Linked DNA regions of Homo sapiens: region 1 is linked to region 2. The links come from fine-mapping of genetic effects on gene expression. A gene starts in region 2. The other region holds a variant in brackets. All regions are shown on one strand. Distances are from middle to middle.

Region 1 (5,000 bases), 96 kb before region 2:
ACATCAATCACTCCAAAAAAAAGTAACTGAATTTAATTGATTATTTATTCATTAGTAAAGGCAAAAACCACAATTTTCTTATAACTTTAAATACTTCTGATAGGAAACAGAAGGAAAAATAAATATGTCCCAAATATTGTTACTGAAATTAGACATTTAAAAAATAATCCCTATAACTAAAGTTTTCCTTGAAGAATTTAATGGTTTCCTGGACAAAAGGACAATTTTGTTCTACCTGTCCCTTGATACAATGAAAGTTAACTTTTCCTAATTATCCTAAGCAAGACTAGTCTAGGGATTCACCCAAATGCAATGTGATAAATTAACACAATGCTTCCAGACTGAGCTGCAGAGCTGAACATCGGCTTGAACATGAAAACAGCAGAAGATGCCATACACACGGGTTTTATCCAAAGTAATGAATGTAGTGTTTAACTGGAACTTAGTAAGACTCTATGAGTTCCTAGTCACCCATCTGAAGTCAAAGCTACAATCATAATACTGCAAACCTCTGAAGAAAAGTGTAATAGAAGTAAAAGAAGATCTATGAAGGGAATTCACAGATATATACTTACAGATCCTCGGAGAAATAAAATTGGAAGCCCAATTCCAAATTTTTCGCCTAAGATGTCCACAGCAGACAAAAGCTTAAATGCTTGTGGACCAAAGTCCCAGGATGTATCCTCTGAGTCATCCATGGAATAGCAATGATCCAATCTAAATAAAAATAATAACATTTGAAGAAAGCTTAGCAAAGGCATGTATCTTTAGAAATCAAAAGATTTAGCATAACAATTAGCCAAGTAAAAAATATCTCAAATGTGCCAACTGCTTCAGAAGCTATGAATAAAGTTCATTATACCCGAGTATGTAAAGTAGCTAAAATATGAAAATAAACTATTGTAGCGTAACAGATATGTTACGCTGATGGTTCTCAATCCTAGTGTCCTAGAAGCAAGTTTCATGGGAGGCACCTCAGACCACAGAAAGGAATAATGTCAATAATAGGACGAGCAAGCAGAGTTGCCATATTTATAGCTAGAACAGCTCCACTTACTTGACCAATTATATAAATATTGGACTTTAGTGTTAAAGGTGTGTTGCAAAAAAAAAAAAAAAAAAAGCCTTTCAGCTTAGAAAAAACACATCTCAGTTGCTGCCTCTTTCTTCTGCCACTCCTGGTCCTGTTTAGGGGCTCACTCATTCGGGGCAGACCTGGTACCTCTTTTGTGAAGCAGCAGCTGAGGAGACTGCCACACTCACCAGGGTCCACAAAAAGCCCAAGGAAAGTCAAGACTGAGAACAAGGATAATGTTCATTTGAAGGTTCATCTTAAACTGTGGTGCAGTTTAAGATGAACAGCCACGCACCACACCGCTTAGTAAACCAATGAAAGCCTATTGTAAGGGGCACGGTTTGCCAATGAGGCAGATCAGGTTTCAATTTGACAGGCAGCCAATCAATGAACCAGACACATCTGCACATTTGGAAGTGAGGCTTAAGACAAAACTGATGTGTTCCAGCAGCAGACATGGAGATGTCTACTAAAAGGGGGACCTGTTATTTTACTGCAGAACTCTGCTCTTCCAGACCAAGAAGACAGTCTCAATTAGAAAGCTACAATTTGGCCAGGCGCAGTGGCTCACGCCTGTAATCCCAGCACTTTGGGAGGCTGAGGCGGGTGGATCACTTGAAGTCAGGCATTCAAGACCAGCCTGGCCAACATGGTGAAAACCCATCTCTACTAAAAATACAAAAATTAGCCAGGCATGGTGGCATGCACCTGTAATCCCAGCTACTCAGAAGGCTGAGGCAGGAGAATGGCTTGAATCTGAGAGGCGGAGGTTGCAGTGAGCCAAGATTGGGCCACCACTACACTCCAGCCTGGGTGACAAGAGCAAAACTCTGTCTCAAAAAAAAAGAAAGTTGCAATTTGGTTCCACCACATCCTGACTACATAGTTTTCTCTATTCTTTCACCTTCCCCTTCCTACTCTTTTACTGCACATAAAGTAACTGGTGTATGTCCACAAGCATATTGCTTTTCTTTTCTTTCTTTTTTTAACTAAATGGCCAATAATATGTTTAGATTGACTTCGATGGAGATGGGGTGGGCAAAAGAAGCATTGGTTCTGTGAAAAGACTCCCTTTGTCCCCTAGTGGCCTGCTCATTCAGCTCTTATCTTTATACTCCAGGATGTTATTTTGCTGTCATAGTTTTAGCAAAAAACAATATAAAAATCCTTGCATACCTTGTTCAATTAGAGAATTTTAATGTTTTTCATTTATCATTGTAAAACCAAGGACAATTTTACAACTGTTTTTATGTAGCTGTTACTTGTGGGGCAATCTGTCTTTAAGTAGAAATAAATTACTCTAGTAATAATAACTCCAAGATAGTCTTCCCTTAGTCAAGTGTCTTGCTTAAATAAACTTCTTCTTTAAAATGAAAAAAAAAAAAAAACCCAAATCCTATGCTATAAATTGTTAAACGCTAACGACTGTAAAATATGACAAAAAGATTATAAACCTTTCATTTAAATAGATTTAGAAGTTAAATTCCTAAGTCACCCTTTGGGTAGATCTGAAACTATCATAAATTCAAATGAGAATTATTTAAGTAGGTTGAGAACAAAAGGACTCATTAAAGAAAATCTACTATAGAGTTCAACTACCTAATTCAATTGCTTTCCTTAGAGTAAGTATCTTTGAAATAGCAATAAGAATGCATTCAATATTCCAGATATAATAATGTTTGGGGGAAAAAAACTATGCTTAGGTTTATTCTCCTAATCTCTTTAGTGAGATGCTTAGCTGATTAATTTTCTTTTCTATTATGAGTATTTCAAGCTAATAAACTCCCACAAAGTACTATTCAATGTTGCCTCTTACCAGTTTTTTTTGTTGTTGTTATTAAAATTTTGTAGAGATGCGGTCTCGTTATGTTGCCCAGACTGGTCTTGAATCCTGGCCTCAACTGATCCTCTCTCCTCAGTCTCCCAAAGAGCTAGAA[T/C]GACAGGTGTGAGCCACTGGGCCCTCTTACTAGTTTTTTTTTTTGTTTTGTTTTGTTTTTTTTTTGAGACAAGAGTGTCGCTCTGTCGCCAGGCTGGAGTGCAGTGGCCCAATCTCGGCTCACGGCAACCTCCGCCTCCCAGGTTCAAGCGATTCTCCTGCCTCAGCCTCCCAAGTAGCTGGGACTACAGGCGCGTGCCACCACGCCCAGCTGATTTTTGTATTTTTAGTAGAGACGGGGTTTCACCATGTTGGCCAGGATGGTTTCAATCTCTTGACCTCGTGATCCCCCAGCCTCGGCCTCCCAAAGTGCTGGGATTACAGGCGTGAGCCAACGCACCCAGCCTCTTACCAGTTTTAATGTATATCATTGTAACTATCCCTAAGTTCTAAAAATGTTAATGCATATTAATGTAGTTATCTGTAGGTTTAAAATTTTTTTTAATTTCCAGTTTGATTTTTTCTTTGAATATGAATTATTTAAGTGTTATTTTTAATTTCCAAATGCATGAGGATTTTGTTGTTTATCTGCTTATTTACTTCTAACTCAAGTGCATTATGGTCAGAAAATGTGGTGAGAAAACTTCCAAATTCATTGAAGAATTTTGAGACAAGCTAGTCTAGTACAGGGTCAGAAAACACTTTCTATAAAGGACCAGATAGTAAGTATTTCAGGCTTTATAGGCCATGATAGGCTTTGCAGCCAACTACTTAACTCAGGCAGCCCTACATAACACATAAACAAAAGGCATGGCTGTGTTCTGAGAAAACTTTATTTACAAAAACATTAGTCAAGCGTGATGGCTCATGCCTATAATCCCAGCACTTTAGGAGGCTGAAGTAGGAGGACTGATTGAGGCAAGGAGTTTGAAAACCAGCCTGGGCAACATACTGAGACTGTCTCTACCAAAAAAAAATTTGTTTTAATTAACTGGGTCTGGTAGTGCATGCCTGTAGCTACTTGGGAAGCTGAGGTGAGGCAAGAGAATTGCTTGAGCCCAGGAATTTGAGGTTACAGTGAGCTATGATCATACCACTGCTCTCCAGCCTGTGTGACAGCCTGTAGTGACCCTATGTCAAAAAAATAAAAAAAAATAAAACAGCATGCAGATTTGGCCTACAGGCCATAGTTTGCCAACCCATGCTCTAATACATAGTTTTTTTGTTTTTGTTTTTTAGTTTTTTTGTTTGTTCAGTTGGTTGGTTTTTTTTGAGACAGAGTCTCGCTCTGTTGCCCAGGCTGGAGTGCAGTGGCGCGATCTCGGCTCACTGCAAGCTCCGCCTCCTGGGTTCACACCATTCTCCTGCCTCAGCCTCCCGAGTAGCTGGGACTACAGGCACTCGCCACCACATCCGGCTAATTTTTTGTATTTTTAGTAGAGACGGCGTTTCATCATGTTAGCCAGGATGGTCTCGATCTCCTGACCTCGGGATCCACCCGCCTCGGCCTCCCAAAGTGCTGGGATTACAGGCATGAGCCACTGCACCCGGCCCAATACATAGTTTTTAGAAATATTCCATGTATGTTTGAGGAGTGAAGTCTTTCAGTGCTTCTCAATCAGTGTGCTACAAACAAGTGAGTTCTAAGAGTGCTGAAAGGTTAATCACTCCAGATCTTAGGGTTTTGGACAGAAACTGAACTCTGACAATTAGCCCAGTGTGTTATATACACATATCATTTGCTATGTGGGTCATGAAGTAAAAATACTTGAGATACACTGCTATAGTTGCTTGCTCTAGGGCTCCATATACTATGTATCTGATAAATCAGTATACTATGTATACTGATAAATAGTAATAAGCAAACTTATTACTATGTTGACCAAATTTTCTACAGTGTACTAATTTTTGGATTGTTTACCCTACCAATAACTTAAAATTATATCAAATTCTCCCACTTTGATGGTGGATTTGTTGATTTCTCCACCTCTTCTGTCGGCTTTGTGCTTTATGTATTTGCTGGATTTTTAAGTTTGTTTTTTTTTTTAA
Region 2 (5,525 bases):
TCTCTGCACAGCAAATTCAACAGACTGAAGACAGAATCTACAGAATCGGATAAAATATTTGCAAACTATACATCTAATAAGAGGTTAATTTCCAAAATGTTTAAGGATGTCAAACAACTCAATAGCAAAAAAATAAAAAAATTAAAAAACCATATTTAAAAAATGAGCAAAAGACCTGAATAGACATTTCTCAAAAGGAGATATACAAATAACCAACAAGTATATGAAACATTGCTCATCAATAACCATCAGGGAAATGTAAATCAAAATCACAATGAGATATCACCTCACACCTGTTAGAATGGCTATTACCAAAAAGACAAAAGATAAGTGTTGGCGAGGATGTGGAGAAAAGGGAACTCCTTCCTCGCTGTTGGTGGGAATGTAAATTATTACTAACATTATGGAAATAACTCAAAATATTAAATGTAGAACTACAAGCGGGTCCAGCAAATCCACTACAGGGTATATATTCAAGGGAAATGAAATCAGTATGTCAAAGAGCTATCTGCACTTCCATGTTTCCTGCAGCACTATTCAACAATAGCCAGAATATGGAATCAAGCTAACTGTCCATCAACAGATGAGTGGATAAAGAAAATGTGATATACATATACAATGGAATAGTATTAAGCCATAATAAAGAATGAAATCCTGTCATTTGCAGCAACATGAATGGAACTGGAAGACATTCTGTTAAGTGAAATAAACCAGGCAGGGAAAGACAAATATCGCATGTTCTCACTTATATGTGGGAGCTAAAAAATTTGATGTCATTGAGGTAGTAAGTAGAATGGTGATTACCAGAGGCTGGGATGGATGGGTGGTGGGAATGAAGAGAGGCTGTTAATGAGTACAAAAATACAGTTAGATAGAAGGAATATCATAGGGTTTGAGAGCTATATAGAGACAAAAAAATAGGTAAGTGATTGCTAGGAAAGCGGGTGGGATTGAGTACTAATGGTTATGGAGATTCTCTTTTGGGTAATGAAAAAGTCCTAAAGGTAATTGTGATAAAGGTTGTACAACTCTGAAGACAAACTAAAAACCATTGTATTGCACACTTTAAATGAGTGAATCATATGATATATTAATTATATCTCAATAAAGCTGTTTAAAAAAGAATTCTGAGTGGAATTGGCCAGATACAAAAAAGACTAAGATGGCAAATTTTATGATATCTTACTCCAATTTTTTAGAAACATAATTCAGATCACGTTTCCCTAACAACTCTCCAACAGCTTCCCATCTCCCTCAGAATGAAAGCCCCAATTTTCAATATAGCCCATAAAGTCCTACACATTCTGGCCCCTTTCCCTTTCTGGCCTGACCTCTGACCTCCTCTCCGCTCTGCTCCAGCTCACTAGGCCTCTTAAGTTGCTCTCTGAACATAAAGAGGCAGGTTCCCCCAGGGCCTTTGTACTTTCTTCTCCTCCAGAGAACGTCAAGGTAAGTTCTCTCACTTCCTTGAGCTCTGGACTCAAAAATTCCCTTCTCAGCGAGGACGTCCCTGACCACTTATTGTAAAACTGCAGCTCCCTACAGCCCCCCACCCACAACACACACACACACTCTTCATCCCCCTTTCCTTTTTAATCTCTATTTTCACCTTCTGTCATCCTATAATTTTACTTTTTGCCTGTCTCTTTCCACTAAAATGTAAGCTCCAAAAGGAGAGAGATGTTTGTCTGTTTTGTTCATTGTTGGTATCTCTAGTGCCTAGAGCAGTCCTTAATAAACATTTGTTGGATTAATAAAGGGAGACCACTGTGGGGGAAAAAAAATAAAAGAAAATAAAATTTTAGCTGAAGAATGCAAGCCCCTTTAAATTATCAGGCCCAGAGAGGCATTAGAATGAAAAAACAGTCCCGTCTCACTCCCGGTCTGAGCTGGATAATTATCTCTTAAAGCCCACCTGCTATATGGGCTCTAGACTGGAACCAAGAAGCCATAAAATGCCATATGCTGGACACGATAACTCATACCCTATGAGTTACAGTGTACAGCCAATCACTAAGCAATGGTATCTCTGTAAACCAATAACAATTCCTGACCAACTTTGTCTCAGCCCACTCTTCCCCTTCGCCTTTAAAAACCTGCTTGTAACCAAGGCTGAAGGAGCACTCCCCAAGGCAACTGGGAAATGAGTCCTGGGCAGCTGTCCTCATTTTGGCTGAAGTAAACACTTTAAATTATAATTTTGTGCCCCAGCCTCTTCCTTTTAGGTAGACACCACTATTCAATGACATCAAGATCTGAACTGTCCTACTTATCCCAATATCCCACCCCTAAAAAGAAATGTACCGAACCATAAAAAGCCTGAAGTACTCCGACTTACAGACTCCTGTATTAGCATCCTAAGAATTATATTACCCTCTTCAATAGGGAGTAGTATTTTTCATATCAAACCTAGCCTGAGAACAACTGAGATTCAACTAGGAAAAAAAGAAAAGAAAATCCATTAAAGACTGAGTGATTTGAACTCAAAAATATCCATCATCACTTGCTAAATCATAGACAGCAGGTTATTTCCCTCGACTTTGCTGTGCAGACCTGTAGTGGCTCAATTTCTGCCATAATAAAGGCCGTACTAGAAAGAGCAATCCTAACTAAGCGCGCAAGGTAAACATCAAGCTGGGGCCGTCAGGGGCGGGGAAACACTTTCTGAATGGCGGAAGCTCCGAGAGACGCCTTTCCCAGCTGCTCCAGAGGGGAAAGGAAAAGGGAGAAAGTCTGTTTTTCCAGAATCTCCCAAACACAGCCCAGGGGCCTGCTCCGCGGGCCTAAGCGCCTCCACGTGTCTCAGAAGCCTAGCACTATAGATACCCCGGGGCACGGAGCTGGGAAAACGGGAATAGGAAGACACTTTACCCCGAGAAGATCCAGTCCAACAGGTCTTCTTCAGCCGGATGACTGTGGAGCGCCACCACAAGCAGGGCCTGCAACCCAGGCATCCAGGCTAGACACCAAATCAGCAAACTTTATTCCCGCGCTGCCGAGTACAAGCCGGCGCCTCCCCGGCGCACACAGTACACATCAGCTCCGGGAGACCTACCCGACCCGCCCCTCCAGCGCCGTCCCCGCCCCCGTTCCTGCCCCACCCCTTTCCCCGCCCCCGGCCCGGCTCGCCTTTCTCGCGGCGCTGCAACCCTCCCACCACAGCCCATCCAGCCCCGCCCAGCGCGCCGCGGTGCGCATGCGTGGAGGCCCTCGCTGCCGCTGAGCACCTCGGGAAGTGTAGTCTCTTCGCAGGTGCGGCTGGGCAGCTAGAGTCCTGCATCCCGGTGGAATCCGGAGAAGTGAGAACATTCCCGCCGCCCGGTCCTCATTCCCATCTTCCCACCTGTCCAGTCCCCTCGCACTCCCGCTGCACCCCACGCGCCGGGCTTCAGTCAGAGAGTGCACTGAGGAAGAGCGGAGACCCCCTCTTCCCCTCAGCAGGCTGTGCCGGGGGAGGCGGGGTCCACCGCCCGCCCCCCGCCGTCGCTCTCCCCGCCTCCCCTTCCCTCCCCTCCTGGCGGGTGCGGGGCCGGTGTCCGAAGTCAGGCGGCGGCCCCCGCAGCGGCCGCAGGAGGGGCGGCTGCGGTGGGCGCCGCGGGCGATGCCCCTGCCCGGCTGCTCCGGCGGGGGGCAGTGCGAGCGGCGGCGGCGGGGGAGGAGGCGGGGGGCGGCGGCTGCGGCGGCTGCAGCAGAGGGGCCGAGAGCTGGCGGTGGCGGCGGCGGTGGTCGTGAAGGGCATCGGCGGCGGCGGTGATGGCAGAGATGATGTGAGTGCCCGCCGGCTGGAGACCTGGGGCCGCGGAGCGCGGGACGGGCGGCGGCGGCGTGCGGGAGCGGCCCCGGGGGCGGCGGAGGGATGCGGGGAGCGCGGGCAGAGCCGGAGCGGCGGCCGCCAACCGGCCGGCAGTGGCTGGAGCCCCGCGCTGCGGCGCCGGGGGAGCCGGGCCCGGCGTGGGGGTCGCGGGCGGCGGCGGGGCGGTCAGGCCGAGGGGCGTCTGCGATTGTTCTCAACACCCCTCCCCCACCCCATCCCGTGTGTCTGTTTGTTACTTGCAGCTGAAGATGGAAAGAGCCAGGCGAAGGGGAGGCGGCGGCGGCCGCGGCCGCGGAGGCAAGAATGTAGGGGGCTCTGGCCTAAGCAAGAGTAGACTCTATCCCCAGGCCCAGCACTCCCACTACCCCCACTACGCGGCCTCAGCCACCCCTAATCAGGCCGGGGGCGCAGCCGAAATCCAGGAGCTGGCCTCCAAACGAGTGGACATCCAGAAAAAGAGGTTTTACCTAGACGTGAAGCAAAGCTCCCGGGGCCGCTTCCTAAAGATAGCCGAAGTCTGGATAGGGAGAGGCCGGCAGGACAACATCAGAAAGAGTAAACTGACCCTCTCCCTGTCTGTGGCAGCGGAGCTGAAGGACTGTCTAGGGGACTTCATCGAGCACTATGCCCACCTGGGCCTGAAAGGCCACCGGCAAGAGCATGGCCACAGCAAAGAGCAAGGCTCCAGAAGGAGGCAGAAGCACTCGGCACCCTCCCCACCAGTCTCGGTGGGGTCCGAAGAGCATCCTCACAGTGTCCTGAAAACAGACTATATCGAGAGGGACAATAGGAAATATTACCTAGACCTAAAGGAAAATCAGCGGGGTCGCTTCCTACGGATTAGACAAACCATGATGCGGGGGACTGGCATGATAGGTTATTTTGGCCACAGTTTGGGCCAAGAACAGACTATTGTCCTCCCAGCACAAGGAATGATTGAGTTTCGTGATGCCTTGGTTCAGCTGATTGAAGACTATGGCGAAGGAGACATAGAAGAACGAAGAGGTGGAGACGATGACCCGCTTGAACTCCCAGAGGGGACTTCTTTCAGAGTGGACAATAAAAGGTTCTACTTTGATGTGGGCTCTAATAAATATGGAATTTTCCTGAAGGTAAGTGAGGTGAGACCACCTTACCGTAATACTATTACTGTTCCATTCAAAGCTTGGACAAGGTTTGGGGAGAATTTTATCAAGTATGAAGAAGAGATGAGGAAAATTTGCAACAGCCATAAAGAAAAGAGAATGGATGGCAGAAAGGCCAGTGGTGAAGAACAAGAATGCCTCGACTAGAGTGAAATTGAACTCCATCAGGCAAAATTTAAAATCACAAATTGGCTAAAAGTACTGATCCATTATCCTTTGAAGAAGTTTTTCCTCTTTTTTGGCCCGTTGTTATTAGTAATACCTCTAGTAGTTGATACTTCAGGAAGTCTGATTCTCATGTTATGTTACACATAGATCACTATAATTCTTACGGGAATTCCAACCTTCCCAGAGCTAAATAGTTTAGCTGCTTCAACTGCTCCAGACTATTGAAGTATGCAAATCAGCACAAAATGTGACATTCTGACATTCTAAATACCATAACTAAGATTTACATTGCACTATGACATAATCCCGAAAAAAGATACATATACTTAAATAGAAGTGTGACTTTCCCCCAAAAGTATTTCAATTCTACTTCATTAAAAGCTGCTAAGCTTACCTGT

What was found. PIP is the estimated chance that this variant, and not a neighbour inherited with it, causes the effect. A credible set is the group of variants that fine-mapping cannot tell apart.
Region 1: its variant is the best candidate, but not a certain one, in a credible set for the expression of WRN in whole blood (TOPMed, PIP 0.63).

The regions. Positions count from the first base shown.
Region 1 is chr8:31,128,082-31,133,081 of GRCh38, reverse strand. WRN (WRN RecQ like helicase) reads right to left here. Exons shown (of 35, transcript NM_000553.6): 24 at 576-717. It also overlaps the pseudogene SUMO2P16. Among named protein-coding and RNA genes, the nearest start is that of WRN, 97 kb to the right of the region's middle. The variant T/C (reference allele first, on the strand shown) is at 3,013.
Region 2 is chr8:31,031,320-31,036,844 of GRCh38, reverse strand. WRN (WRN RecQ like helicase) reads right to left here and starts at 3,035. Exons shown (of 35, transcript NM_000553.6): 1 at 2,872-3,035. It overlaps PURG (purine rich element binding protein G), which reads left to right and starts at 3,489. Exons shown (of 2, transcript NM_001323311.2): 1 at 3,489-3,767; 2 at 4,057-5,525. The coding sequence starts at 4,063. The coding sequence ends at 5,106. RefSeq lists enhancers at 1,878-1,927, 2,761-3,282 and silencers at 1,998-2,067, 3,038-3,297, 3,458-3,507.